Linked DNA regions of Homo sapiens. The protein of the gene in region 1 interacts with the protein of each later gene in a biochemical or structural test. Each region holds a gene or a part of one and is shown in the gene's direction. Other genes may lie near its edges. The genes, in order: RAD51AP1, NUCKS1, WDR48 and DMC1.

What was found.
Region 2: the proteins of RAD51AP1 (region 1) and NUCKS1 form a complex in vitro, tested with the Homo sapiens proteins (one study listed by BioGRID).
Region 3: the proteins of RAD51AP1 (region 1) and WDR48 form a complex in vitro, tested with the Homo sapiens proteins (one study listed by BioGRID).
Region 4: the proteins of RAD51AP1 (region 1) and DMC1 form a complex in vitro, tested with the Homo sapiens proteins (2 studies listed by BioGRID and IntAct).

What each region holds. Positions count from the first base shown.
Region 1 is NC_000012.12:4,541,365-4,549,415, forward strand, and holds part of RAD51AP1 (RAD51-associated protein 1), read left to right. Parts: intron 1-519; coding exon 520-569; intron 570-2,398; coding exon 2,399-2,540; exon of another isoform or gene 2,541-2,547; intron 2,548-3,854; exon of another isoform or gene 3,855-3,901; coding exon of another isoform or gene 3,902-3,948; intron 3,949-4,417; coding exon of another isoform or gene 4,418-4,468; intron 4,469-4,944; coding exon 4,945-5,054; intron 5,055-6,727; coding exon 6,728-6,814; intron 6,815-7,322; coding exon 7,323-7,472; intron 7,473-8,051. UniProt on the Homo sapiens protein: Structure-specific DNA-binding protein involved in DNA repair by promoting RAD51-mediated homologous recombination.
Region 2 is NC_000001.11:205,711,798-205,719,709, reverse strand, and holds the end of NUCKS1 (nuclear ubiquitous casein and cyclin-dependent kinase substrate 1), read left to right. Parts: intron 1-33; coding exon 34-183; intron 184-1,230; coding exon 1,231-1,430; 3' UTR 1,431-6,888; downstream 6,889-7,912.
Region 3 is NC_000003.12:39,055,016-39,063,066, forward strand, and holds part of WDR48 (WD repeat-containing protein 48), read left to right. Parts: intron 1-8,034; coding exon 8,035-8,051. UniProt on the Homo sapiens protein: Regulator of deubiquitinating complexes, which acts as a strong activator of USP1, USP12 and USP46. Enhances the USP1-mediated deubiquitination of FANCD2; USP1 being almost inactive by itself.
Region 4 is NC_000022.11:38,518,014-38,525,800, reverse strand, and holds the end of DMC1 (meiotic recombination protein DMC1/LIM15 homolog), read left to right. Parts: intron 1-4,076; coding exon 4,077-4,193; intron 4,194-5,711; coding exon 5,712-5,781; 3' UTR 5,782-6,853; downstream 6,854-7,787. UniProt on the Homo sapiens protein: Participates in meiotic recombination, specifically in homologous strand assimilation, which is required for the resolution of meiotic double-strand breaks.

The sequences.
Region 1 (8,051 bases):
TGTTATTTGGTATGGTGGAGAGATTGAAAAGAAAGTAGCTTTTAGTGTCAAGAAATTTATAATCTAGTAAGGAAGATAGAATGCACACACAAAACAGAAGAACACGTACAACGGGAACTTACAAATGCCCAACAGCAATTAAACAGTATAGCAATTATAAATGTTAATTATGTAGATTATTCTTTGTAAGTTACCTGAATTTTTTTCCTTTATCATATAATTGAAAAGCCAACAATACCCAGGTATATCAGGTATAGTTGTAACTATTTTAGCTAATGATAAATCCCCGCGGTAAAATGCAAATCATGTTTTAGAGTTAAATATTCTTACTTGAACCCAAACACATTTTCATTTATTGAAACACATTTCATTTAACACATTTTTATTTATTTCGTTTATTCATTATTTATTAATAAATGAATAATATTAAATAAATAAATAATATTCATTAATAGCCTTAAGTAATAGTGGTGAGAAATTGACATTTGTGTTAATGAAAAAATTCTGTTTTGGTCATAGACATAAGAAACCAGTCAATTACTCACAGTTTGACCACTCTGACAGTGATGGTAAGTAAAGCTTCTTATTTTTGTTCTAAAGATTTGGAAACTCATTTCCTCGGAATTTATATGACATATATAGCTCAAACACTGACTAAATTGCCCAAATGCATATGAGGTAGGTCTGGAAAGATAGTTTTCTAATCATTTGGGATAATTATGCTGATAATTATACTGATAAAAATTATGTTAGTAGGTGATAAATGAACAGGCCAGGTGAAAAGTCTCTTTAGATCTAAACTACTCTAAAGTCCATAGTTGCAACATAGAGGTTTGTCTCCTATTCCATCCCTGAAGAAGGAAAACACTGTCTTTTTGAGATACAAAGATGTTACAGCATATTATATAAAATCCCTATTAATTGTACTATAAAACAAGACCTTGAAGAAAGGTTAGGCTTATGTTATGCCTTTTAAGCATTAGTCATATGTTTACTTGACTCTGCTATGATTGAAAAGTTTGAGGAACATTGCATTAGATTATGTTATATGTTGAAGTGGATTTAATATTTCTTTCTTAGACCACTAGAGTTTTCTGTAAGTCAAATATTTAGTAAGTCTTCGGTTTGAAGGAATCTGTTTTTGCCTTGAGCACAGCCTTAACTGTATCTACCACTTGGGAAAAAGAGTGTAGAGTATAACATCTAGCTTTTTTTTTTTTTTTGTCATCAGTCTGTCATCAGATACTTATAAATTGCCAGGTGTGTAGTAGTAGGTGGGGGGAGTCCTAAGTTATCTTATTTTTACATGGGGAAGCATATAAGAGACAACAAGTATTAGTGCTTGCTGAGTATGTGATGAAGACTGCATAGACCCTGAAAGTATGCATATATGTGTTGTATACATGTGGAAAAGCCACAGCAGTAGTTTTACGTTGACAGTCAAGAGTAGAACTACAACAGTTCAGAGGATTGGTAAGACAGAAAAACCTGTGAGAAACAGTAATGGACTGGAAAAGAACATCCTTTTGCAAGAAAATAAGAAGTTACTTTGGTAGGATCTTAGGAAGATCATTATGGTAATGGAAAGAGAAAATACTACTATTGTAAAAATCCTCAAATAGGAGCTACTTTCTCTTCCCCCCATAATGCTTATTTCCTCTAGCATGGTTAATGTACTAGGAATAGGTAATGGGCTTTTTTTTCTCTTTTTTTTGAGACGGAGTCTCACTCTTGCACCTAGGCTAGAGTGCAACAGCGCGATCTTGGCTCACTGCAACCTCTGCCTCCCAGGTTCAAGCGATTCTCCCACCTCACCTCCTGAGTAGCTGGGATTATAGGTGTCCGCCACCATGCCTGGCTAATTTTTGTATTTTTTAGTAGAGACAGGGTTTCACCACTTTGGCCAGGCTGGTCTTGAACTCGTGACTTCAGGTGATCTGCCCGCCTTGGCCTCCCAAAGTGCTGGGATTACAAGTGTGAGCCACTGTGCCTGGCCCAAGTAATGGGCTTTGAAAAAAGATATTTGGCTACATTGTGAAGTTCCCATAAAAATAATTTATTTCCACTTTTCAATGTGATTAAATTCTACCAATTTTTCTAATGGTTTTACAGGTTTTTAATCATTTTTTCTTTGACACTTATATGCTGTCTTAATTGCTTTTGCAGTTTTTAGTGAATTGGTTTTTGATAGACTGATATTTTTAAATATAAAGGGCACAAAAACAAAAGTCGAAATAGATAAATGAGAGTAAAGATAAACAAAATACTAACAATGATTTTTAAATTGTGGAAATTAAACAATTTGCCTAGCCTATAAAAACTTGAACACACATGGTAATGATTTTCATTTATGAAGAAAATAATATTTTTCTTTTGGTTTTAATTCACACATGAATAGATGATTTTGTTTCTGCAACTGTACCTTTAAACAAGAAATCCAGAACAGCACCAAAGGAGTTAAAACAAGATAAACCAAAACCTAACTTGAACAATCTCCGGAAAGAAGAAATCCCAGTACAAGAGAAAACCCCTAAAAAAAGGTGAGAGGTAAGACATGCAGTAAATATATGACATTAGATGTGTTAATTTTAAAGAGACACAGATTCGAACCCTTGATTTAAATTAGAACTTGGGCAGAGTCATAGGTCTTATTTTACTAGGTGCAGTCAGAAAACAGGACGTACTATTTTTTTCTGGCTTTCTGACTTAAAGAAATTCACAAACATTCAAGGAAGTATCATTAAATATTAAGACAATAATGATTGTAGAATTCAGAAGTTATGACTGGTTTTGACAGGACCCAGCACTTATCTCTGAATTCCTCAAATCATACGAGACTACTTTGTTAAAAATGACATTAGATGACTTAAGATGATTAAGACACAAGATGACTTAATATGAGGACAGTTTTTAAAATATAAAACCATGTATTTTCTTGCAGAAAAAGATGTCTTCTCCCCATGTTGTTAAGATTTATCCAGCAGTGAGAAGTTCCCATAGTTTCTAGACTAACCGTGGAATTCCATTAGATAGTATCAAGAGGCAGAAAGGAGTGAAGGAAGTCCTTAGAGACCCAAAACTTGCAGTATGGAGAAGAGATGGGCGGAAGGGGAATATTAACAAATGGAACATGGCATATATAATGTTTTACTGCCACAAGTTTCTCTATGAAAAGTGAGTTAGCCTGGAGAAACTTACCTCATGTCATGCTCTTTTTTGCTTTTCTTTTTTTTGGTTTTTGTTTGTGAGTTTCTTGTATTACATTTTAAATATATAGAAAAAGGAACCCACACGTGGGAGAAAATATTTGTAAATCAGATAACTGATAAGGGACTGTATCCAGAGTATACACAGAACTCGTAAAACTCAACAGTAAAAAGACTAACAACACAATTTAAAATGTGCAAAAGATTTCAATAGACTTTCTCCAGAGAAGATAAACAAATAACCAATAAACACATGAAAAGATGCTCAATATCATTAGCTGTGAGGGCAATGCAAATCAAAATCAGAATGAGATAATACTTCACACCCACTAGATGACTTAATACAAAAGACAAGGAATGTGGAGAAATTTGAACCCTCATATATTGCTGGTGGGAAAGTAAAATGGTGCAGCTAAATTGGAAAATGGTTTAGCAGTTCCTCAAAATGTTAAACAGAGTTATTACATGACCCAGCCTATGTATGTATCCAAGAGAAATGAAAACATATGCCCACACAAAAACCCATACATGAATGTTCACAGCAACATTATTCATAATAGCTAAAAAAAAATGGAGGCAATCTAAATGTCTATCTGCTAATGAATGGATAAGTAAAATGTGGTTTCCACAAAATGGAATATTTTTCAGCCATAGAAAGAAATGACAACTGATAACTGATATATACTGCAATATGGATGAACCTTGGAAACATCATTCTGAGTGAAAGAAGCCAGATATACAGGTCACATATTACATGATTTCATTTGCATGAAATGTCCAGAATAGGCAAATCCATAGAAACGGAAAGCAGATTAATGGTTGCTAGGAGGGGAGAGGGGTAAACAGGAAGTGAATGCTAATGGGTATGGGGTTTCTTTTTGGGGTAATAAAGATGTTCTGAAATTAGGTAGTGTTGGTGGTTTTACAGCTCTGTGAATGTACTAAAAACTGCTGAATTGTTTACTTTAAAAGGTAAACTTTATGATATGTGAATTATATCTTAAGAAAACTGTTATTCTAAAAAAATAAATTCTTTAAGGTACATCTCAGTGCTTCTTCCTTTATGTAACTTTTCCTTATCTGTCTTTGACGTTTTCTTCCTCTTATACTCCATAGCACTTTTGAGCAGCTTGAATAGGACTTTATAGTCTGCCTTTTATAGGATAATTATTAGCATGTCTTGTTTCCCCACCCTCCTCCTTTAATTGCAGACTCCCTGAAGGTACTTTTAGTATTCCAGCTAGTGCAGTGCCTTGTACAAAGTAAGTGCTTGGTAAAATATTTGTTAAAGTCTGGATTGGGAGGAAGAGATGTAAAAAAATGATAATAATTTTAATTTAATGTAAGAGCTATAAAATCTGCTAAAGGGGAGTGGGTGAGGTCAAGGAAGAGTTTTAAGTGGAAGTGATGTTTGAACCAAGTCTGTTTTGGGTTGAGTAGGGTGTTTCCCACCTGGACACAGCTGGTAGTAAGGTGACACATTACAATGAAAGGGAACAGTCATTGCAAAGAGGCACATGGTCCTCCTATTTCAAACCTCTTATTCTGTATGTAACATGATACTGTGACATTTTAGGAGTCTTATCTTATCATCAAAGGTCTATTAATGATGATTGTTTAAAAACATTTTTGCGAAGTTAGCAACTCTTGAATAGTAATTTGGAGAAATCTCAAACTTTGCTCTTTAGTTGAGATTGATATTTTGAAGAACTCATTATTACTTGTGTATCTATTTTAGGATGGCTTTAGATGACAAGCTCTACCAGAGAGACTTAGAAGTTGCACTAGCTTTATCAGTGAAGGAACTTCCAACAGTCACCACTAATGTGCAGAACTCTCAAGATAAAAGTAACTTTATTTTCTGTATATTTAGCTTTAAAACCTTCTTAATGCTTTTGTGATTATTTGTTTGGGTGGGCCTTCACAGAGGAAACAGGTAAAATGTGAATACTTTGCACTATAAATAGACCCATTTGCAGAGAATACGATTGGATTTAGTTCTTAATTCAGCTGCCTAAATCTCATACAAACAGACATACATCTCTGCTTAACACCCAGAATAAGCTTGAGGGCACGGACTGTGAGCCTCAGTGTTCGAATTATATGTTGTTGTACAGTGAACATTTAATTTCTTCATCAAATGATTTGATCTGTACAGTCCTAACAATCCATCTCCATTTTTTCCAGATCAGTTAAACATACCCTAATTATGGTAATTTTTATTACTTACAAAGGTCAAAGGTATTAATTTGGTTAGCAAGTTCAGTAGACTTAAGAGAATGGCTTTTGGATTTCTCTGTTGATTTTCTCCTTTGATTTTTCTGGCAATATATTAATATTCTAGAGAGGCAGAAATCATTATTCCTGAAAAAGATACTCTACTGCTAAAATGCTTTTTGGCTTAAAGTTTTTATGTTGGGGGATATTTTAGCTTATTATCTTATTTAGGGGTATACATGGAGCTTTTTTCTTTGTTTCTTAAATCAGTACTGCCTCCTTATTTATTTATTTATTTGAGACAGGGTCTCTCTCTGTCATCCAGGCAGGAATACAGTGGCATGATCATGGCTCAATACAACCTTGACCTCCTAGGCTCAAGCAGTCCTCCTGCCTCAGCCTCCTGAGTAGCCGGGACTACAGGCATGTGCCGCCATGCCTGGCTAATTTTTTATTTTGTAGAGAGGGGTCTCACTATGTTGCGCATGCTGCCCTCAAACTCCCAGCCTCAAGCAATCCTCCTGCCTCAGCCTCCCAAAGTGCTGGGATTACAGGCGAGAGCCACCTTATCTGGCTGCCTCCTCTTTAAAAAGAAATGAAAGTTTGATTAGGAAGACTTTTAGTAACCAAGAATCAAAGAAACATCAAAAGAGAATTATCATGAATTACATTTAAAATGGAGGCACTGAAATTCATCTCTCTCTTTTAAGACATTGTAGAATGTATAAGGGGAGTTCCTTAGAAGTATTAATATTATACCATTTCTTATTAAATAATGCACCTTATAGCATTGGAATTTAATAGTACCAATTATTATGTCTTAAAGTCCTCTTAGAATGCTTTGGGTCATTTTAAGGTTATTATAACGATTGGAGAGTTCTTAACGTTAGTAAAAGCATGGATTTGCCTACACAGAATTGATAGTTTATTGACCATTTCCTGTATATTAGGCACAATAATAAGCAATTCCTATGTGAGATCCACATTTGGTCTTCTGTAATACCACTGGGTAAGACACTATTTTTATCTCCACATTATAGATGAGGAAATTCAGTCTTAGGATAAGCAACTTGCCCATGGTCATATAGCCAGTTTACATGGTAGAGCCTGAATTTAAACATGTTAGATTTCAGAGCCCAGACTTCTAACCATATGTTAACCTCTCTGAATAAAATTATTGTGCCAGTTGGAGTTTGGGATCATTTATTTATATCTAAATGCTATTACATTTTAGTACTAATTTTCCTATATCTAGACATTGATTAAGATATATCTGAATTTTCTTTCTTATTCCTTATATTTAGGCATTGAAAAACATGGCAGTAGTAAAATAGAAACAATGAATAAGTCTCCTCATATCTCTAATTGCAGTGTAGCCAGTGATTATTTAGGTAAGTTTTTTATATTAATAATTTTTCTCATCAACAATGCTGTTTCTCTGACTTTTGTTTAAATTGCTGAAATTGTGGCTAGAAGCAAGTTCTTTAAATTTGTCAAGACTCTCTTGATGTCATGGCCTTTATTTCTTTGTGTTTTAGTCTCATTCTGTCGTACTGCAGACACACATTCTTCCCTGAAGGGTCATAACTACCCGTGGCTTCTAGTTGGAGCAACTGACCTTTGAAGAAAGGGGCTGCATATTCCCAATTCTAGTTTGAAAATTTTGGGGGAAAGATTATCTCTGTTTGGGTCTTGGATTTATCCCTAAAACTAGAGGTGTTCCCAGGGCACTGATGTACCATGGTTGACCCAGATTGGGCTAATAGTCTATTACTGGAAGCATGGGAGGGATGAACCTGGGCAAATAAAAACAATAGCTGTAATAGAGTCTGGTCTGCAGTTCTTGAAATATCAGTTGTCACAGAAAGTTTTCCATTGATTTTTATGCCTCTCCTGAAGATTTGGATAAGATTACTGTGGAAGATGATGTTGGTGGTGTTCAAGGGAAAAGAAAAGCAGCATCTAAAGCTGCAGCACAGCAGAGGAAGATTCTTCTGGAAGGCAGTGATGGTGATAGTGCTAATGACACTGAACCAGACTTTGCACCTGGTAGGTTTTATTCTACTTCGAAATTAATTCTATGGGAATTCAGTCAAAAAAGTTCTTGGAAGCTATTAATTGTGCAAAGCACTGTGTTAAACCTTTGGGGTGTGCAAACTTCAGGGACACACAGAACAGTTCAATTCAGTGATAGCATTTGGGGAAAAAGTTTTTTCTACGAGTTAACCTTTAAGCTATGCCTTGAAAAATGAGTAGCGTTTCAACAAACTAAAGGTGTAAAGTAGCATTTCTGACTAACAGAAAGGCATTACCTGTGGAATAGACAAATGCTCTATTTGTCTCTAACTGAGGCTTGCTGGGATGAACATGGAAGAGGCTCGAGAGGGAGGCTGGTACTAATCAGGGAGGGTCTCAGACCCACTGGAAGAAGTGTAGGCTTTTTTTTCCTGGAGGTAGTAGAAATCCATGAATTATTCTGAGGCAGAAGTGATATGAAATCTATATTTTATTATGATGGTTTTTAGACTCATTTAGAAATTGGGCAAATGGAAAGTGTAGTGACCTTGACAGAACATTATAACATATTAATTAAAAATTTAAATTCATAAATTCATAAATGTAGGCCAA
Region 2 (7,912 bases), on another chromosome or scaffold:
AAGTTAGATGTTGAAATTCTTCTTTCTTCTCAGAAGATTCCGGCAGCGATGAAGATTTCCTAATGGAAGATGATGACGATAGTGACTATGGCAGTTCGAAAAAGAAAAACAAAAAGATGGTTAAGAAGTCCAAACCTGAAAGAAAAGAAAAGAAAATGCCCAAACCCAGACTAAAGGCTACAGGTAATTTCTGCAGAAGTGAAATTAAATTTACTGCTTTAAAAATTTTGAGAATCATTATTTTCAATACAGAAATTCCTCATTAGGATTTGGCATTGGCCTGATGTTTAGCAGGAATACAAGAAATCTAAAAGGGTCTTGTATTCTGCAACTGGAAGTATCTCTTATTAATAAAGACACTAGCCTGTTTAAGAGTCTAGTGGGCTTAGCCATGTTCTTCAACTACTGCCAGTACTTGAGCAAGATTTCAGAATGATCTATTTGTTTCAGACACAGTGGTAGAAACACTGTGTCATCATAGTTGTTACTGCTCTTTTTTCCTCACTGGTATCACAGTCTCAGCAGCCAGCAAAGACTTAATTGTGAAAATGCACAAACCTAGAGTAATACGTTTAAGTTCCACGTTCTGAACTCTACCCCATCCTCTGTGCTATCAGAATAAAACCACACTTGATGACATGAGTTGATTTTTTTCTGAGCCCTAATGGTTTCTCCTCGTTGGAGCTAGTTTGTTAACTAAATCAGAAATCAATTTGCTTTTTGTGTAGGTGGTTTTATTCTGTTAGGTAGAACTAGTCATTGTTAAACTTCTGTTTATCACTTCCTACTGTTAGGAATGATGGAACTATCAAATGTTATTTGATGGCTTTAGTTTCTGATCAGATTAATTCTTTTCCTTCCGTCTTTTTGACCTGCTTTTTATAAACAACTTTTATCATAAACAACTGTTAGTTTACCAAGCAATTAAGGATGTTGTGCATATTCTATAGCATGGTGCTTCTTCTTTACAGGTATTACTGCTAACATCATAGAGTGTTGGTAAAAACTGATGGGAAATACTGTAGCATAGTGTAGTAACTTATGACCAGTTTAGAAACTGAGATAGATTTACCTAGGGATATATGTGCTCCCTTGTGCCCACCTTGGTTTTTAGTAAGTTGCATATTGTCTTTATAGATTTTATTCTTACAGATTGTTGTATTTTGTAGCTGACTTTTATTAAAGACATTTTTTTCTCTTCCCTTCCCCAAATTATTTTTCTATTTTCAGTGACGCCAAGTCCAGTGAAAGGCAAAGGGAAAGTGGGTCGCCCCACAGCTTCAAAGGCATCAAAGGAAAAGACTCCTTCTCCCAAAGAAGAAGATGAGGAACCGGAAAGCCCGCCAGAAAAGAAAACATCTACAAGCCCCCCACCCGAGAAATCTGGGGATGAAGGGTCTGAAGATGAAGCCCCTTCTGGGGAGGATTAAAAGTGATGATGGTCTGGGGAGAGATTTTATTAAAAAAAAAAAGAAAAAAAAAGAAAAAAGAGGGAGGAAAAAAAAGAACCTACTTAAGATAGAACATGGTTTTGGCTATGGCTTGACTCATGGGCTTTCAGTGCTTTTTTCCATTTGTTGAAAGTAACATTTCTCTCTCTCTCTCTTTTTTTTTTTTTTTTTTTAAAGCAAACCATTGTATGTGTAAGTGTTTAAGTTACCTTTTTGTCTATTGGTCTCTTTGCCAGCCCTCCCCTTTCCCAATGAAAGCCATGTCAAATTAATCACTGGATTGACTGCTTCATCTTTTTATTTTTAATGAAAGGTGTACCACGGTTGTAAAGCAATAAGATTTGAGATGAACACTATTGAAACTTCGCTTTTTGCTAAAAAATAGCAAGTTGAATAGTAATCAAAAAACATAGAAAGATTTTAGTTCAAAATGATTGCTCCTTTCTCTACCTGGACTTTTAAAAAATCAATTGTCATCTAATATGAGTTTATTTGTCTATAGACACAAGTATCAATGTCTAAAAAAAATCATGACTTTAAACTTCCACCGATGAGGCAGGTAGGAGATAAAGATGAATTCTGAACTGTTACTAAAAGTACTCATTTTTTACCTTGTAGGGAGGGTGGGCAATGGGGTTACCTGACCTTATTTGAGGGTATGGGCTTTCTTTTTTATTTCATCACTTGTTATCTCAAAGAGACTCGGAGCCAGTGATCCTTTTATCCTGCTACAGTCTTTAGGGAGCTAAAAAAAAAAAAAAAGCAGGGGCTGCCAAAACTCTTGATTTCATATTTCCTTCTCTAAATATATATGTATCCTGTTTTTTGGATAAAATTTTACCAAGAATCCAAAAAAAAAAAAACCCTAGAATTTAATCAACAAGATCAGTCTACAGGTCACAGTGGATTTCTTTTCAAACTGACAATGTTTAGGTTTTAAGCAAATAAAGTTCCAGTTAATGTGAAACTCAGTCACAAAGAGTTGAGATTTTTCCTTTATGAAATAGAATTGACATTCTTTTATGCTATAAATGTGCATTCAGGTCCCATTAACCATGCTCTGCTTTTATTTGGGGATAGAACATTTTCTTTTTCATATCCCGATCTTCCCATTTCTTCATAGAAATGTGATAAGAAGTACATCCCTGTGATCCTGCTGCTTCGTAGAGCACCACTGCACACCCTACCCCGAGTGCCAACCACCTCTGCTATAGGACACTATTTTCCTGGCCCTATTCTTCACTTACTTCCCATCCTGTCCTTGACTAGGAATATGTTAAATGCTGCTCCCATACAATTCAGTTAGCTCTTGTCTTTTTATTTGGTCCAACCCCTGCTTTACTGCTCATGCTGCTTAAAGCAGGAGGGACTAGAGAAACAAGGCATTTTAGGAGGCCTGTGTGCAGTTGAAAACCGACTTTTACACGCCTTATAAAAGCAGTCAGGAGATAGATCCGTAGGTTTGATCCTTCACATCTAATACCAGGCGCTAATGGGAACAAGGTTTAAAGGGTCCTGGTATGCTAATAAATTGAAAAATTAGTGAAATTTAAACTTCTGCCTTTTTTTCCTGCCTTTTAATCTAGATTTGCTTCCTCAATATCCTACTTTGTGGTTTACTAGGAACATGCTTACTCTGATCTTTTTTTAAAAAACACACAGTGGCAGAGTCATTTCACTATTGCACTGTGTGTTAAAGAATGAATAAGGAGTTTTCAGTTACATGGCCAAAAATACAGGACTTGAACATAAATAGCAGTTGGATCATTCTCTTTCATGACGGTTAAATTCAGAGGTGTGAACTTTGTAATGAGGGTGTTAAAGATTAATCTATTTGCCTAAATGGGTTTGTTCAGGTATCCATTTTTAACAAAGAAGTTTGTGTTCATATAGTAAAAGACCTATCAGTGTTTCCACCATGCACTTCTATTTTTTAGGAGTTTATAATTTTAAGTCTTACATTCCTAGTAACATTTGGGCTTTTCTTAGGTTATGTTTCGTGAAGATTTGGGGGGAGGGCTCTTTTAAAACTTCAGCCTCAGTTGTTTAACAGTCTCTTTAATATATTAATCTGCACTAACATCTCTGTGATATATGCACATATTTTAGAGGTAATCATGTCTTCTAGATTACTTGTGTGCATTTGATTGGGCTTCTTGTTTAGGGTCCCTTTTAAAATTAATTCATTAGATTGAAAAATGTATTCTATATTTCTGATAGACTGGACAGAAGGATCTGTGTCCCCAAGTGAGACAGGCTCTGAATAACCTTTGTTTTCTCCACTTTTTATTGATGATTTAAAACACTCTAGTCTTCCCCTCAAATCATGCATGCAAATAGGAGGACAGTGGTGGTGACTCAACTGGATACAGGTGCTCAATAGTCAGGCTTGATAGTGATGTCAGGACGCATTACAAGCTGTAAGCCGATACTGACTGGCCATTGGCACCATCCTTGACTAACCTTCCTCTTTTTCTCTAGTGTGCCTATGGTGAAATGGCAATAGCATTCACTGTCGTATTTTGCAGTGCTCAGGAAGTGGGACGTTAACTTTGAAGGTGCTTGTTTGTATTAGCTCTGCTAGGTTTACCTCTACAACGTAGATTTCAGCAGCTATGCTGACTGACACTACATTCTAGTTCTTAAGATTTTTTTTCCAGATCCCCCCTTCCCCAGCTAGACATACGTAGCATACTTTCATCTTATTCAGTCTTTCTGTAACCTGCTGCTGCTTTTAGTCCTCCTCACCTCAGATCGGAATCAATGGAGTGGGCCCAGAGGATACATTTTAATTCCAGTAATGGTAGGTAGATTTGTCCTGCTTTCTAAAACATCTCCTCATTTCATATTTCCACTCCATATTGATTCCATAAGGGAAAATTAATGGGTGTTTCCTCCTTTAGGGAGGTAATGCAAAGAGTGTGGACATCTTCTAATCTTGAGGAACAGTAGTTGATTTCCCTTGAAGGAGCTTACATATTGACTGTTTTCACAATAACCTGTTTGCCCCAGTTCAATCCTCATTTTAATACTTAATTTGGTACTGGCTCAAATAGCATTTTCTTACAGATAACAAATCAAGAGTGAAATTTGAGGTTATACTCCAGTAAAGTTTTTAACACTTGTGAATATGGTCAGCTAGACTAAACTTGACTCTTTTTTTTAATGGCTTTTTTATCTGTGAACATTCAGATAAGTGGATTTTCAAGTACTGGTTGGGGATGGGAATCGTGCTTTTCTTTAAACTTCAGTTTACGAGATGCTTTGAGAGCGTTAGGCAAAAGCAGAAATAAATATCAGGAGCAACGGGGAAAGCTTTATAAAAGATCATGGTGGCCACTGTTGCAGCTTTGAAGAATGAGTGCTGGCTTGAACAGTTCTTTGCCTGCATCATTGGTAGCTGCACTGAAAGGAAAAAACTTTCACCTTAAGAATTTGAAAAGGAAGAAACCTGGGCTCTGGTCTTCATGGCATTTAGACTGAGATGCTTAAACAGAACAGAAGTAATACGCATTTCCTGCCATAGGATAGGGAAAATGTAACAAGCTGGTTGCTCTTGAGGTTAGAAAATTGTCTGTTTCTCTGTGGATGAAGCTGGATTTACTTGAAAATGGAGAGTTGGCTTATTGTTTGAATATTGGGACATCAAGCTATCTATAGCCAAGTTTCAGTCGCAACCAGTTTTCCCTTTGTCTGGGGTAAATTCGATACAAAATGATTCTTTTTGAATCCTGAATCCATAAATTACACTTTTTTTTTTCAAATTCACAAAATTCACAGTGGTGCTGACTGTGTAATAACCACTATTGGGAAACATCCCGTAAACCTGCCTGTTGCCATGCCAATGGAGTGACTGAACTGGTGACATCTGTTTGAGCATGCTTTGTGTGGCTGGTAGAATGCCACCGTTGTGCATACACTTTGTACATCAGGGGTGAAGGGAGGGTTTTCTAGATTATTGGGGGAGGGTAAAATTGGGATTTTTTTGTTGTTCCTTTTTTGATGGGGTGTGGGGGTATAGTACTCAGCTTATGCCCTAAAATAACATGTATAAAAACCCCTGAAGTATTGTGTGGGTGTGTACGTGTGAGTGTGTGTTTGTATACATCTGGCAATTAAAGCTTTGTCTTCTGGAACTTAGTGAATTCTTTTCTCTTTTTCCTCCAGAAGTATTTGTTACAAGATTTGTAAATAAGAGCTCTACTTAGTTTGTTTACCATGAACATGTTGCAGCAAACCTTATGCATCTAATTCCTACAAGGTTAAAGAAAGGCTTTTAGACTTGCCAGGTTAAGCAACAGCCAAGTTCTCAGTAATTGTTTGCCTTGATTTATCTTTTAGACTTCATTTTGCCAGCTCTAAAACTCCCAGTCTTCCTTGATTTTAGTCCTTAATCTTTTATGTTCTGAGCAGGAAGGGTAAAAGACAGGAACCTGCTTCACTGTATTAACTAGTCCATGGGCTGAGACCGGGGCATCTCTTTTCTTCATACTGCAATGTTGCTAGATACATGATCAGACACCAGAGGGTTGGGCATTCTTGCAATACCTTAACAGTGCTGAAATCTGCAGCATGGTACTAAGGAAGTTAAAGTTTGAATGTAACCACTTTATTTAAAAGGTTTTTTTCTTTAATTTAAATGAAATGGGGTTGAAGTGAACATGATTTTGTTGACCATGTTCGTGAATTACAGATGCAACATGCATTGGTAGAATCGTGTGATGGTCTTTTGTGATACTTAATTTTTACATATCCCAGTCTCTGTATGTATCTGCATAGACAAAGAAAAAACAAACTCCTGCTTTGCTTTTATTGAAGGGTTTCCAGGACTGCGTGTCTGCTCCTGAGCTCTGTTTTAAGTATGTGTATCCTTTGCTTGTATTTTGTATTAAAAAAATAAGAAAAAGAAGCCTTTATTGTTGAGCATGTTGGCATTGTCCCCTTTATTTTTTTCTCTTTTTGGGACATATGAAGCAAGTTATTCTTTTTCTGTATCTTTTTTTCTTTTGTAAACTTTTTTTTTGTTTTGTTTAAAAATGGCTTTATAAAAGGGCTTTTATAACCCAGATGTGTGCTCTGTGTACTTCTTGTAATACCTTAAAGCAAACACACTAACTTACACAGCTTTGTTAATCAGCTCCCAGTTCAGCCTGACTTTGTGGGAACTTATTTCCCTAATAAATTATTTAGAAACTTTAACAGTGACCATCCCTGTTGTTGGTAAAAGATAAACATGTCTTGGTTCAAAAGTTAATACCTCAGGATGGAATCAAGAAGCAGTAGACTTACCAGTTTGATTAATTAAGGGAGCACTGGACTGGGTGCGTAAGGATTCTTAATTAGCATTTTTTCTCATGTTTACATCCAAGGTTATGAAGTGTTGTGGAAAGCAAAGTTTAACAATCATATATAATAAAAGATAATGTTTATACTCACAGAACACACTTGCATTCAATTCCAAATACCCATAAGAACTACGCTGAATTTTGAATTAAAGATTACTTGTTAGGTGGACAATGTGGTACAAGATCCCTCTTTAGAACTGGGCTGATATTGTAGCTATTAGGGCTTTTTTCTTTTTAACTTTTCCTCTTGTTTACATACTTGCCTTGTCAGCCAAATACTATAATTGAAATGCAAATTTGGCTTTGAAATTAAATGCTTTGTGCATCCTGTTATCCGTCAGTGACTAGCTAACTTTTTAAATTTCTTTCTTTCTTTTTTTTTTTTTTTTTTTTGAGATGGAGTCTTGCTCTTGTCGCCCAGGCTGGAGTGCAATGACATGATCTCAGCTCACTGCAAACTCCACCTCCCGGGTTCAAGTGATTCTCCTGCCTCAGCCTCCCAAGTAGCTGGGATTACAGGCATACACCACCACACCTGGCTAATTTTTGTATTTTTAGTACAGACGGGGTTTCACTATGTTGGCCAGGCTGGTCTTGAACTCCTGATCTCAAGTGATCTGCCCACCTCGGCCTCCCAAAGTTCTAGGATTATAGGCGTGAGCCACCCCTCCCGGCCATTTTATTCTTTTTCGGAGATATGAGAGTCTTGCTATGTTGCCTGGGCTGGTCTCAAATTCCTGGACTCAAGGGATCCTCCTGCTTCAGCTCCCCCAGTAGCTCAGATTACAGGTGCAGGCACACTGCCCACATACATTTATTTCTTAATATAATGAGTTGTCTCAGGTTAAAGTTGAATTTGGATGAGCATTAACCATCTACTTTTCCTCATAATCCTTAAGTATTTTATGGATAACATAGACAATTTTATGTTTCAGGACAGTGCTGAAGAAATGCAGTCTGATTTAAAGGATTTCAAAAACCAACAAGTGGATAAACAGATGAAGAGAGGTTAAAACACACTTGGAGCTACCTAGACTCCTATCCATGAACATCGGTATACAGTACTACACTGTAGTTGTGCAACACATATTACCTCATTTAATTTTTCCAACAACT
Region 3 (8,051 bases), on another chromosome or scaffold:
ACATTATTTGCTCTTATACATCAAAAAGAAAACTTCTCATCTTGGAAAAAGCATACATGGGTACTTGGAGTAAATATACTTTGTCTCCTGACTGTCTCAGACCACGAGACAGTAGCCCTGAGCTCCTTGTCAAGTTGTAGGCCAAGACAAACCCTTGAGACTTAAAAATATTGCTAAATAATCAGTGGAGGCCAGGCGTGGTGGCTCATGCCTGTAATCCCAGCACTTTGGGAGGCCAAGGTGGGCAGATCACTTGAGGTCAGGAGTTCGAGACCAGCCTGGCCAACATGGCGAAATCCCGTCTCTACTAAAAATATAAAAATTGCCGGCATGGTGGCGCATGCCTGTAATCCCAGGTACTTGGGAGGCTGAGACAGGGGAATCGCTTGAACCCAGGAGGCGGAGGTTGCAGTGGGCCGAGATTGTACCAGTGCACTCCAGCCTGGGTGACAGAGCGAGACTCCATCTCAAAAATAAAATAAAATGATACTTAAAATCAGTGGAGAGGGGTCCAAACATACTGCATATTAATTGTAGACATAATTTTAAATGAGTCCATGTCCTACCATCTTCAACTTCTAGGAAAACTAGAGATACGAGGGAAGAGGGATGGATTTGTGACTGTCAGAAACATAATCAAATATGTGAATTCAGATACATGATGTAGCATTTTCTCTGGTAACCAGGATATCAAAGCAAGTCTTTTCCATCCTTAGCAGTCCCTTGGTGGTATGATTTTCCAGCAACCTGAGTCTGTTGATTGGCTCTCTGTGCCTCCATTTTTCCTCCTGTTATGGCCTCTTCCTTCAGTGCTTCACAGTGCTTGGGGAAAAAAAATACTTCGCTTAACTTGCTGCCACTTCTAGTTAAGCTCTTTCCCCAGCTAAATGCCAAGAGGACTTTTGTGCTCACTACCGTATCCTCAGCATTTAGAATAGTGCCAGGCAACAAGTGGGTGCCTAGTTAATATTCGTTGAAAGAATTAAATCCATTTTCCTCTATTTTTCTATAGCCAGACATTTTAAATTTTTTCTCTGTACTTTAATGGATGCAGATAACAAGTTTTTAAGGTGACATGTCTTGAAACATATCAGCATATATAGTTTTCGTTCTTTAATGACCACATAGAATGGATGTACCATAATTTGTCTAGCCATTTCCTTATTGAAGATATTGCTTTGATTTTTTTTCCATCATACTATAATTTGCTTTGAAAAAACCTCCAGTTATAAAATAGTAAAGGAAGTGTTACAAAAATAAATGAAAGGACAAAGATAGATAATACAGAATGCATAAAAGATGAGGGATCAGTTTGAAAGTTCCAGTATCTGACTCATTTGAGTTCAAGAAAGAGCAAAGAAAACAGAGATGATGATTAATAATGGATACAAGAAAATTTCCCGGAGCTTAAGTGCCGCAAATTTCTAGATCGAAGGGGCTTTCTAAATGCACAGAAAAACTAATGATAGAAAAAACAAACAAGAAATGTCACAACACCAAGGAAAAAGAGAAAATCCTGAAAGCTTAGGGAAGGAGATGACGAGGGAGTGGAGGAAAGAATGAAAATAGGATCCCTTTAAAGCTGTATGAAACAGAATGGCATTGAAATCAGTGGCAACATTGGATGCTAGAGGAACTTACAGCAATGCTTTCAAGAGCTGAGAGAATTGCTAAATCAAGTGTAAATGTGGAGGAAAGACCTTTTCAGGCATGCAAGGACTAAGTTGCCAACCCATGTGCCTTTTCTTATATTACTTTCTTAAGGTATTGGGGATGTATTTCAGCAAAACTATGGAGTGAACAAAGAAAGAAGGAGGCATTAGAATTCAGGAAACAATGGCTGTAACCCAGAAAAGCAGTAAAGGAAAACACCAAAGGTGACAGCTGTGCCAGCAGATCTAGAGGGCAGTCAGCCTAGATTGTAATGAGAAGAAGGAGGGTTTGGAGGGGGAAGCCTTCTGAGAAAATAAAGGGGTGGGGGTGAGTTCTGTGGTACAGCAATTAAAATTGAAATTAAAGTGGAGAAAACCATTGAAGAAGGAAAAATTAAAACTCTAGGGAAAACAAAAAGCTCTTTGAGGAAGGAAATGTATTCATAATATAGTACTTAGTAGATAGCCTTACAGTCACAACAATATAGCACGGATTATTTGTTCAATTAAAAATAGGGATGTATCTATATTAGAAGAGTAGAGGGAGGAGATATTGAGGGTAGTTTCAGAACTACATCCTAATCTACAGTAGCATGAGTAAATCGATAATGTCTAAAATGGATGAGCCAAAAAGTTATAGGATAAGCACAATATTTAGAGAAATGCAGTTAACTATCCAGTAGCAACAACTGAGTTGCAATTAGTTACCTTTAGGGATGAAGACTAGGTGTGGGAGTCTTATCCAGACAGTAGAGAGACTGTTTTTCATTACAGTCATTACTATTTGATTTTCTAAATACAAGCAGGAATTACTTGGATAACAAATGATCAAATTTTAAAAACTAAGTAATACATGTTGTTTGTAAAACATTCAGAACACATGAAAGAGACATGAATGAGTGAAAAATCACCATAATCCCATCATTCAGAAATAACTGCTGGTTATTTTATTTTATTTTTATTTTTATTTTTTTGAGACATTGTCTCACTCTGTCTTAAGGCTGGAGTGCAGTGGCACCGTCATGGCTCACTGCAACCTCTGCTTCCTGGGTTCAAGTGATTCTCCTGCCTCAGCCTCCTGACTAGCTGGGACTACAGGTGCGCACCACCACACCCGTCTAATTTTTGTATTTTTAGTAGAGACGGGGTTTCACCATGTTGGCCAGGATGGTCTTGATCTCCTGACCTCGTGATCTGCCCGCCTTGGCCTCCCAAAGCTGGGATTACAGGCATGAGCCACTGCGCCTGGCCCCTGGTTATTTTTATATATGTATAGTCTTCAAAACTTGTGTATTTGTTCTGAAATATTTAATATTTTGAAACATTTTTATAATAATGACTATTGTACATTGTTGTGTTGGACCACACATATTTCACTAAAAATATATCATGGCTTTCCGCCCATGTTTATCAGTCTAGACCTCCATCAACTCTTTCTTATTCTTTAGAAACAGGGCTCTCATGCTGTTGCCCAGGTTGTAGTACAGTGGTGCCATCATAGCTCACTGCAGCCTCAAGCTCCTGGGCTCAAGCAGTCTTCCCACCTCAGCCTCCTAAAGCACAGAGATTACAGGCATGAGCCACCACACCTGGCCTACATCAACATTTTAAGTGATTGAATAGTGTTGTGTTTTACAGATGTGCGTGCTAGAATTTATCCAACTAGGATACTTCTAATTCTTTTGCATTTTAAAGCACACGTCTTTAGGAAATACCGTTGAAGAGGTTGGCCCAGACTGGTTTTAACAGTAATTACTTTCCACCTAGAATGAGAATTCTGACATTCAGGTTATTCTTTCACTCTTGCCTTAACCAGTCAGATAATCTCCCAGAAGTCTGGATATCAAGATTTAGATATGCTGCACAGTCTCAGTTAAAGGAAATGTGAGCTAGGTAAGCAGCCCTGGAACCCCAGAGAAAGAGAGATTGAGAGAGGCTGAAGTTGACATTGAAGCTAGCTTGGTTCCTGGTGGCTTTGGAAAGCCAATTCATGCAATGATACGTATGTCTTTTATATGCCAGACACTATAATGGGGGCACAGGGGTGGAAGGAACAAGGCAGACAAGTCCCTTGCCTTCTTGGAGCTATTATTCTAATGGAGAAGATACACCAAAAAATATAAATGTGGCTGGGCGCGGTGGCTCACACCTGTAATCCCAGCATTTTGGGAGGCCAAGGTGGGTGGATCAGAAGGTCAGGAGTTTAAGACCAGCCTGGCCAAGATGGCGAAACCCTGTCTCTACTAAAAATACAAAAATTAGCTGGGCGCCATAGCAGGCACCTGTAATCTAAGCTACTCGGGAGCCTGAGTTGGGAGAATTGCTTGAACCTGGGCAGCAGAGGTTGCAGTGAGCCAAGATCGCACCACTGCACTCCAGCCTGGGCGATACAGTGAGACTCCGTCTCAAAAAAAAAAAAAAAAAAAAAATACAGAATGTGGTAAGAACTGTTAAATAAGTAATGTAAGATAGATAGGGTCATAACCCTGAGGAGAATGAGATCAGAAAGGCCTTTCCAAGGAGACCTTTCTCCTAAGATCTGAAGAGTAAGGGTGAGTTAGACAAGATGAAAGCTGGAGAAAGAGTATTCCTATAGGGATTCGAGGGGTGGTGAATCTTCATGACACTGGCAACAGTAAATGAGAAGGTACTGGGATGGGAAAGAGCTTGATGTGTTTACGGTAACAGAAAGGAGTTTGGAATGACTGTCATAAAAGAAGCTGGGGGCAGTCAGTTTGAAATGAGTGGGGGATGCAGGGTCAGAACTAAGCATTTGAGGAGTTTGAACTTTAAATTTTGTGAAAAGCCATTGGAAAGTTTCAGCAGAGAAGTGTCATGATTTGATTTTTTAAATGCCTCTTATAAATGATGACTGTATTTCCTGACCTTGGGCTCTGTTAAGATATCCTTGTGTTGAAGTCTCCTTTAAAAAACAAACAAACAAACAAAAGCTGGTTTGAGTAGATCTCAGTTACAGTTAATTGCATCCAAAAGACTGGGTTAAAACAACATCCTTGTAGCTATTTGTGTCTGCAGCCCTGGCCCTTTTTAAAGGACAAATTTCTGGAAATTGAATTTTAAAGAACATTTCAAAGAGTTTAAAACTTTTGTCAGAAAGTGTTTATTTATCCTCAGGGGAAACAAAAATGGCAGTTATTTTAAAAAATTCTTGTATTATAGGTAAAATAATCTCATATTAATTTTGTCTTTGATTATTTATGGGGTTTTTGGCCATTTCTTTTTTAAAAAGTCCCTTTTTGTAACTGTCCCTCTTTCTGTTGGTAAATTTGACTTTTTCTTATTTTATAAGGAATCTTGTTAAGAGTAAACTTTCTTTCATATTTATTTCATTATTCTCTTAGTCTTGCTCGTGTTACTTTTTGACATTCAGAAGGTTTAAGAAAATAATAACATTGTGATAAAATTCACATACCATAAAGTGCACCCTTTCAAAGTGTACAATTCAGTGATTTTTTTGTATATTCGGAAAGTTGTTTATTGGTCACCTAACTCCAGAATGTTTAATTACTCTATGTTCATTAGCAATTACTCCCCGTTTTTCATTTTTCCCTCCTTCAATCTCCTGGCAATTACTAATCTACTTTCTGTGTGGATTTGTCTATCCTAGACATTATATATAAATAGAGTCATAAAATATGTGGCCTTTTGTAAAATATGTGGCTTCTTTCACTTAGCACATTTTCAAGGTTCATCCACGTTATAGCATGTGTCAGTACAGTGTGTGTGTGTGCATATATATATATATATATGCACACACACACATCACATTTTATTTGTTTTGTCCATTGATGGATATTTGGGTTGTTTCCACTTTTGTAACATTATTGTGAATGCCACAATGCTGTGAACATTCTTGTACATAGAAAAGGTTTTGACTTGTATTTGGCCAGATCACCATTGCTCTTTTCCTTCGTAAAGATTACCATCTTTCTTGGCATGTTGGAAGAGTTTTCTCTGGCAAGGGACTATGTAAATATTCACCTGTCTTTTAAAAATTATTTTTATGCTGGCCAGGTGCAGTGGCTCACGCCTGTAATCCCAGCACTTTGGGAGGCTGAGGCGGGTGGACCACTTGAAACCCAGCCTGGCCAACATGGTGAAACCACCATCTCTACTAAAAATGCAAAAATCAGCTGGGCACAGTGGCATATGCCTGTAATCCCAGCTACTCAGGAGGCTGAGGCACGAGAATTGCTTGAACCTGGGAGGTAGAGGATGTAGTAAGCCAAGATCGGGCCACTGCTTTCCAGCCTGGGTGACAGAGCAAGATTCTCTCAAAAAATAAAAACAAAAATTATTTTTATGGTTATTAAATTTCAGTCTTTAATTCATAGAAAAATTCGTTTTTGGTTTAAGATGTGGAGAAAGGGTATAATTGTTCCTAATAGAATCACTATAGGTACTTGAGATAATTTTTTTTAATTATTATACTTCAAGTTCTAGGGTACATGTGCACAACGTGCAGGTTTGTTACATAAGTATACATGTGCCATGTTGGTTTGTTGCACCCATCAACTTGTTATTTACATTAGGTATTTCTCCTAATGCTATCCCTCCCCCAGCCCCCTACCCCCCAACATGCCCCAGTGTGTGATGTTCCCTGCCCTGTGTCCATGTGTTCTCATTGTTCAGCTCCCACTTACGAGTGAGAACATGTGGTGTTTGGTTTTCTGTCCTTGTGATAGTTTGCTGAGAATGATGGTTTCTGGCTTCATCCATGTCCCTGCAAAGGACATGAACTCATCCTTTTTTATGGCTGCATAGTATTCCATGGTGTATATGTGCCACATTTTCTTAATTCAGTCTATCATTGATGGACATTTGGGTTGGTTCCAAGTCTTTGCTATTGTGAATAGTGCTGCAATAAACATACGTGGGCATGTTTCTTTATAGTAGAATGATTTATAATCCTTTGGGTATATACTCAGTAATGGGATGGCCGGGTCAAATGGTATTTCTAGTTGTAGATTCTTGAGGAATCGCCACACTGTCTTCCACAGTGGTTGAACTACTTTACACTCCCACCAACAGTGTAAAAGCATTCCTATTTCTCCACATCCTCTCCAGCATCTGTTGTTTCCTGACTTTTTAATGACTGCCACTCTAACTGGCATGAGATGGTATCTCATTGTGGTTTTGATTTGCATTTCTCTGATGGCCAGTGATGATGAGCATTTTTTCTTGTGTCTGCTGCAGAAATGTCTTCTTTTGAGAAGTGTCTGTTCATATCCTTTGCCCACTTTTTGATGGGGTTGTTTTTGTTGTTGTTGTTGTTGTACATTTGTTTAAGTTCTTTGTAGATTCTGTATATTAGCCCTTTGTCAGATGGGTAGATTGCAAAAATTTTCTCCCATTCTGTAGGTTGCCTGTTCACTCTGATGATAGTTTCTTTTGCTGTGCATAAGCTCTTTAGTTTAATTAGATCTCATTTGTCAATTTTGGCTTTTGTTGCCATTGCTTTTGGTGTTTTAGTCATGAAGTCTTTGCCCATGCCTGTGTCCTGAATTGTATTGCCTAGGTTTTCTTCTAGGGTTTTTATGGTTTTAAGTCTTAACATTTAAGTCTTTAGTCCATCTTGAGTTAATTTTTAACTGTTTATTTCATTACATTAGAAAGTTTTACTTCTGGCTGCCAGCCAGCTTATTGACTTTTTCTTAGGTGTAATTGTTTTCAGTTGATCCCCTGTTTTCACAAGGAACAGACAGAGGTCACCAACAGTAACAAAGTAGGGGAAAATGCCCTGAAGAAAAAGTTTAGTATGTGATAGGAGCTCAAAACCTCATTTTGCTTGGCAAGTCAGGGAAGGCCTTCTAAAGGAAGTATTGTTTAAATGGAAACCTGAAGGCTGCAACAAGAGTTAGCCAGACAGGTCGGAGGAAGAGCTTCCAAACAGAGAGGACCAGCATGTGTGATGGTCTGGAGGCACAATGCACCAGAACCTGGAGCAGAGATGAGTGGCCAGAAAGACAAACAGGGTACTTGAGACCATGTTAAGGAATTTACATCCAATCATGAGTCTAGTAGTCAGCAACTGGAGGTTTTTGAGCAGAGCTGAGATAGATTTTTAAATAATTACTCTAGCTGCTTTGTGAAAAATGGACTAAAGACTGGGAAAGGAGTCCAGTCAGGAAGCAGTTATAGTAGTTTAGCAACTTACTCATGTTGGACTAGGCTATCATTGATACCATCCTTCTCTTCAGCCCTTTAGTCTTTAAGGAGTAAAATTTAAATTTGTATTGGGTTGAAAAAGTACATATTGGAAAACATGGGATTTTCTGTTTCAGATTGGCCACTAGTAGACTATATTTTATTACTGCATGGCTTGTACTTTATAAAAAGCATATGTTGACACATTTGTCAGGTTTCCTATGTTATTCG
Region 4 (7,787 bases), on another chromosome or scaffold:
GCCCAGATAATTGTTGTATTTTTGTAGAGATGGGGTTTTACCATGTTGTCCAGACTGGTCTTGAACTCCTGGGCTCAAGGGATCTACCTGCCGCAGCCTCCCAAAGGGCTGGGATTACAGGTGTGAGCCACTCTGCCCAGCCTCATTCCTATATGTTTTCTTTGCCCTTTTGCAAATGCTATAATTTATTTCCCCATTTGGGTGATTCAAAATCATCTCCTTTTGGAAATAATGTTCTTAACATTCAGGCTCTTCACCTACAGTAATGACAAGCAATTGTCTCTATTCTTTTTTGCACATTGGGTACCACACTAGTAACAGCAAACAATAGTTTGCTAAGAAAAAAAAATCATGGCTATACATCTAGAAGCTCTAGCTTCCCAGTCTTGTTTAGGTTATCTATAATGGCATGGGAGGCATGGTGCTTCAACTGGGGGAATCTATCTTCTTTTATATTTGCCTCTGTCAGAACACTCTTCAAAAGTTCCCTGAATTACAGTTTTGAAGATATGACACAAATCTGTGTCCAAGAAGGACCTAGACCAGGGAGTCCCAAATTGTCATCTCTGTATTCATTCTGCAATATTTATGGAGTACCCTGTATATTATAGGCACTTTTCCAGGCGCTGGAGTTTCAAAGATGAACAGATATTTAGAGTATAGTTGGGGAATAAGACCCATACATTTAAAATTACCATGTAGTGTGCTTAATTAATTAATTAATTTATTTATTTATTTTGAGACGTAGTCTGGCTCTTGTTGCCCAGGCTGGAGTGCAATGGTGCGATCTCAGCTCACCACAACCTCTGCCTCCCAGGTTCAAGCGATTCTCCTGCCTCCGCCTCCTGAGTAGCTGGGATTACGGGCATGTGCCACCACACCCGGCTAATTTTGTATTTTTAGTAGAGACGGGGTTTCTCCATGTTGGTCAGGCTGATCTTGAACCCCTGACCTCAGGTGATCCGCCCGCCTCGGCCTCCCAAAGTGCTACTGCGCCCACCTGTAGTGTGCTTTAATAAAAGAATACAGACTGTTGGAAAGCACAGAGGGGGCCAGTTTTCTACTGTTTCAGGGAACCAGGCAAGGGTTCCTAGAAGGGAGGACACTTGAAGGCTGTGTAGGAGCTGAATGAGCAGACACGGTGGGGAAAGGAGCTTTCATTTCAGAGGGAGTAATGTGTGCAAAGTCATCAAGGATAAGAAGACTTTCTGAAATCAGAAAAAAGGAAGTTTTAGAGGGAAGGAGAAAACATGAGTACAACTGTAGTTAAGTATATAGGTGGTGGACAGAAAGAAGAAGTTGAGGAAGTGTCCTCCTGAGAGCCCTTATTTTCTTTTTTATTTATTAGTTTTATTTTATTTTATTTTGTTTTATTTTATTTTTTTGAGACGGAATCTCGCTCTGTCGCCTGGGCTGGAGGGCCACCGGTGGCGCGATCAGCTCACTGCAACCTCTGCCTCCTGGGTTCAAGTGATTCTTCTGCCTCAGCTTCCTGAGTAGCTGGGACTGCAGGTGCACGCCACCACACCCAGCTAATTTTTGTATTTTTAGTAGAGACAAGGTTTCACCATATTGGCCAGGCTGGTCTCAAACTCCTGACCTTGCAATCTGCCTGCCTCAGCCTCCCAAAGTGCTGGGATTACAGGCATGAGCCACTGTGCCCGGCCAAGCCCTTATTTTCTTTATAAAGTAGCAGGCAATGTCATCCAAGGTGAGGGGATAAGAATGGAAAAGGGGGCTTAAGGAGACTACTGAAGGTGAGGCAGTAAAGCCAACCATGCTCACACAGGAGAATGAGCAGCATTGAGAGACTAGCTGGGAGAAGCAGTAGCATTGTGTTCAGACTTCTCTCTGCCCATTTAGCTAACCTTGACTATCCGTTCTTAGCTCCTTTTGATAGAAATTTCCAACTGGTCTCAATTTTATTTTTTCTTAACTTCTGTGAAAACACCAATCTTTTTGCAGTCCAATATTCCCCTTGGAATTGTTGTAGCATAAATATCTTAAGCTGAAAAAACTATTTTTTTTTTTCTGAGACAGAGTCCCACTCTGTCACCCAGGCTAGAGTACAGTGGCGCAATCTCAGCTCACTGCAGCCTCCGCCTTCCGAGTTCAAGCGATTCTCCTGCCTCAGCCTCCCACGTAGCTGAAAAAACAATTTTGAACACCCACTGTGTGCCTGGTTGTGCAGAACTAAACACAATATAGTCTGCCCTTAAGGAGCTTAGTGATAGAGAATAAGAGAGGAATTGAGAAGGAATACAATAAGTAAATAAATAATAGTACTAAAGGCAGAACATGAAAAGTACATTACAGAAGCATAAATACAGTGTTTGCAGGCTCGGAGTTCATAGCTCAGTTGAGAATATCCTCAGGGTCTCAAGCAGCCCATCTATATAGAACATAAGATTATTTTAAAACCATGAAGAACCACCTGTAAGGTAGGGTGACCTGAAAAGTTAAGTGGCATCGATCTGTAAGCATTATAGAGACAACTCACTTATCTAGCTATTTTATCCAACTGAGAAGGCTTTATTGCTTTACTACCATGTCAGGTGCCTGGCAAAGCAACCCAGCTTTCTGACTTCTTAACTGCCGCCGTTAGTCTCAACTGTCTGGCTACTACTTTCTTGATAGTGGTTCACTCCAAAACTAACTCTTTGTCCTTGTTCCTATGTTGGACCTGCTGCATTTGCATTTAAAACATTTTTTTAAAAATGTTTTTAAGAGGGCCTCACTATGGTGCCCAGGCTAGCCTCTGAATTCCTGGGCTCAAGTGGTCCTCCTGCTTCAGCCTCTCAAGTAGCTGGGACTACAGATATGTGCCATAGTGTCCAGTTTCTACTGAATCTTAATCCTATTCAGCACCAACCAGGGGTCTTCTGGTCCTAACCTCTGAGCCATTTAATCAAGTAGCAGTTTATCTCAGCAAACTCCTTTACCAAAGAGCTTCTTATCCCGACCAACCTACAGTCTAAATATATTTAACCTCATGCCAATCAGCTACATCCTTGCTATACCAAGCCTGAAGCTTAGAGTAAAACCAGAATCATGAACACTTTAATGGAGCAAGCACAACTTGAATTGACTTGTAACTATATTCTTTCAGAACTGAAGCTATTATTCTATATCATAGTTTATTTTGATCAAGTATAACCTTTAGTTTGTGCTGTTCCCTTATTGATGATTTCTAAGCCCACATTTTCTTTTTTTCTTTCTGTTTTTGTTTGTTTGTTTTTTGAGAAGGAGTCTTATTCTGTTGCCCAGGCTGGAATGCAGTGGCTGATCTCAGCTAACTGCAGCCTCCACCTCTTGGGTTCAAACAATTCTCTTGCCTCAGCCTCCAGAGTAGCTGGGATTACAAGCATCAGGCACACGCCACCACACCTGGCTAATTTTTGTATTTTTAGTAGAGATGGGTTTTTGCCATGTTGGCCAGGCTAGTCTCGAACTTCTGACCTCAGTGATCCACCCACCTCGACCTCCCAAAGTGCTGGGATTACAGGCACGAGCCACCGAGCCCAGCCAGTAATCTCATTTTTTAAAGTCAGGCTGGGCACAGTGGCTCGTGCTTGTAACCCCAGCACTTTGGGAGGCCCAGGCGGGCAGATCATGAGGTCAGGAGTTCGAGACCAGCCTGGCCAACACAGTGAAACCTCATCTCTACTAAAAATACAAAAAATTAGCTGGGCGTGGTGGTGGGCACCTGTAATCCCAGCTACCTGGGAGGCTGAGACAGGAGAATCGCTTGAACCCAGGAGGCAGAGGTTGCAGTGAGTGAGATCACACCACTGCACTCCAGCCTGGGCGACACAGCTAGACTCCATCTCAAAAAAAAAAAGTCAAACAAAATATAAACTATTTATCATAGGAATCTCAAAAGCCTAGACTAGATGGGGTATATAGCAGCTCCAAAACTCACCTCACTCCTTAGTTTATGAACAAGCCTCTGCTTGTTTAGAATATACACTTATTCCAACTCCTGACATCCACCACAGAAAGATTGCCTTGTAATTGCAGATATTGCCATATATAGTCCATATGATGAAACCTGAAAGAGTATTTTATTAATTCAGCTTTCAGGCAGATCCCAAAAAACCCATTGGGGGACACATTCTGGCTCATGCTTCAACAACAAGAATAAGCTTGCGAAAGGGAAGAGGAGAGCTCAGAATTGCCAAGATTTATGACAGGTAAATTTTTTTTTATTTTGTGTGTGTGTGTGTGTGTGTGTGTGTGTGTGTGTGTGTGTGTGTGTGTGTAGAGACGGGGTTTTGCCATGTTGCCCGAGCTGGTCTCAAACTCCTAGGCTCAAGCAATCCTCCCACCTTGGGCTCCCAAAGTGCTGGGACTATAGGTGTGAGCCACCACAAGGCTGTAATTATTACTGCCAGATGCTGTGTGTTTGAATTTCTTTCTAAAAAATTATTCAATTTATTGGGAAGTCCCTACTGTTACTAGGTACTAGGGATTGAGGGATTCTATTGACACATAGACTTGGTCCCTGACCTTTCAAAGCATACACCTAGATAATGAAATCATCAATTCCAATTAAATTGTGTTAAATACAAGGTAAGTATCAAGTATGGGAACATATCCTCCTTTCTTTTTGCCAGGTTAACTCTATTTGTTTTTCAGGTTTCAGTTTAAACATCACTTTCTCAGGGAACCTTTCCCTAACCCTTACAGTCTAGGCTACTCAGTATATTATACCCTATATTCTTTCTCAGCACTTTACGTGTTTAATTAAGAATTACAGATTTTGGCCCGGCACAGTGGCTCACACCTGTAATCCTAGCACTTTTGGGAGGCCGAGGTGGGCGGATCACCTGAGGCCAGAAGTTTGAGACTAGCCGAGATCGCGCCACTGCACTCCAGCCCGGGCGACAGAGTGAGACTCCGTCTCAAAAAAAAAAAACAAAAACAAAAAACAAAAAAGAATTGGATAACCTGGGAGGATGTGCTAGACAACCTATGTTTCCATGGAAGGTACTCAGTAATCTTTTAATTTATTTCAAAGTATTTTACAGTTTGCTCCTACATTAGTCTAGTCATAAGAAAGGTGCATACCCCTATAGAATCAGATAAACCTCTAAGGGGCTGCTATACAATGCCTGACACTATACTAAAAGAACATCCAGTTGGCCAGGCGCAGTGGCTCACGCCTGTAATCCCAGTACTTTGGGAGGCCGAGGCAGGCGGATCACCTGAGGTCAGGAGTTCAAGACCAGCCTGGCCAACATGGTGAAACCCCGTCTCTACTAAAAATACAAAAATTAGCCGGGCGTGGTGGCAGGCACCTGTAATCCCAGCTACTCAGGAGGCTGAGGCAGGAGAATGGCTTGAACCCAGGAGGCAGAGGTTGCAGTGAGACGAGATCTCACCATTGCCTGGGGGACAAGAGCAAGACTTCGCCAAAAAAAAAAAATTAAAATAAATAAATGAAAGAACATCCAGTTATCCTTTCACCTGTTTCCAAGTTTGGAGTAATTTTTCTTGACATTCAGAACTTTATATATAGAAGTTGCTCAATAAATGTTTGTGAGGGTTAATAATACTTGTGGGTAAGTTCTGTAGGCCACATTTGGTTGTACCAACTCTGAGATGTCTCTGGAGATTCAGACTGATGGGCACATAATGCCTGTGACATGAATATAGTATTTATAGAAATAGAGCTTTTTATAAACTTCTGTTCCCTTGTATTCTGTTAGTCCTGAGATGCCTGAAAATGAAGCCACCTTCGCAATAACTGCTGGAGGAATTGGGGATGCCAAGGAGTAGGTGGTGAATTGATGCAAATTGCTTCTTAGTGCTTATTAGGAGCTGAAGAAATGGAAAAGCAGTCTCCAATTTCACATCTTGAAATAGAGGTTTTTTCCCACATGTTACTAAAGAAAAGTCAGCAAAGAGATTTAAATCTTATATTTATCTTAAAAGTCCCTGATTTATGATAACTATACATTGTATGTAAATTCAGGGATATGTATATGTATGTTTGTGTGTGTGTGTGTTTGTGTGTGTATACCTGACATATATAGTAGATATATATACCTATTGAAATTCTCTCACTCTGTGTATGTATATATACCTATGGAAAACTAGTTGTTGGGAAAGGAGTACGTGATTCCCTCCCTTTCACTTTTCAAAGTGAGCCACTAAACAGAAAGTCTAAGAGTTCAGAAATGTCCCATTCTCCTAAGGACTTTCCCTTCACCATTTTTCTAGGGTATAGTGCCACTGACTTACATAGCTAGATGTTTTTCCACAAGAGGATTTAAGGGAGGAATGTTTATAGGACACACACACAAAAGCTCTTTCTATTTATAATATCAAACTGCATATTCACCTTTATAGCAACAGAAAACAGACATTAAATTAAGCCAAATTTTAAATCATTTGACTTTGACAAGCAGAAATTACTTTTAAAAAATGTATTTATGGCTGGGCGTGGTGGCTCACACCTGTAATCCCAGCACTTTGGGAGGCCGAGGCAGGTGGATCACTTGAGGTCAGGAGTTCAAGACCAGCCTGGCCAACATGGAGAAACCCCATCTCTACTAAAAATACAAAAATTAGCCAAGTGCAGTGGCATGTGCTTGTAATCCCAGCTACTCTGGAGGCTGAGGCAGGAGAATTGCTTGAACCCAGGAGGCAGAGATTGCGGTGAGCCAAGATGGCACCACTGCACTCCAGCCTAGGTGACAGAGTGAGACTCCGTCTCAAAAAAAAAAAAAAAACTTTTTTAAAATGTTAAAATTAATTTAAATGTAAAATTTCTGAATACTAATCTTAGAAATGTGTAAAAGATATTATTTTGATTGTTAAACAAATAAAATCCTGTTTTCAAAATGCATGTATGGTGAAAATATGTAAAAATTAATATACTAATGACAATATACAATGAAGAGCTTTATAGACTTCAATCTTTATAGACTTTAATGTTACATCAACTTACATGAAAATTCCAGGGCTGGGCGTGGTGGCTCACACCTATAATCCCAGCTCTTTGGGAGGCCAAGGCGAGTGAATTGCTTGAGCCCAGGAGTTTGAAGACCAGCCTGGGCAATATGGCAAAACCCCGTCTCTACAAAAATACAAAAAAATTAGCCAGGCGTGCTGGTGTGTGCCTGAGGTCCCAGCTACTCAGGAAGCTGAAGTGGGAGGATTGCTGGAGCCCAGGAGGTGGAGGTTGCATTGAGCCAAGATAGAGCCACTGCACTCCAGCCTGGGTCACAGAGTGAGACTCTGTCTCAAAAAAAAAAAGAAGGAAAGAGAAGAAAATTCAAGTATTCGAAGTACCATTTGTTACAAAAGGTATTTGATTATTCATGAAATTATTCACTCACTAATTATTATTAATGCTAAGCGCTAAAGAATAAACAAGGAAAATGTGGTTCCTACACATAAAGCATGTGTACACTAGTTAAGAGAAAAGACTAATATTTAGGAAAACAAGAGAGCAAATGATTATATAATTAATTCATAAGCAGTGTAATCTTGGATTGACCCTTAAAGAAAAAGTAAAATTCTGCTGGGTGCGGTAGCTCACGCCAGTAATCCCAGCACTTTGAGAGGCCGAGGTGGGTGGATCACTTGAGGTCAGGAATTCGAGACCAGCCTGGCCAACACAGTGAAACCCCATCTCTACTAAAAATATGAAATTAACTGGGCGCGATGACGCACGTCTGTAATCCCAGCTACTCAGGAGGCTGAGGCAGGAAAATCTCATGAACCCAGGAGGCGGAGGTTGCAGTGAGCTGAGATCATGCCACTGCACTCCAGCCTGG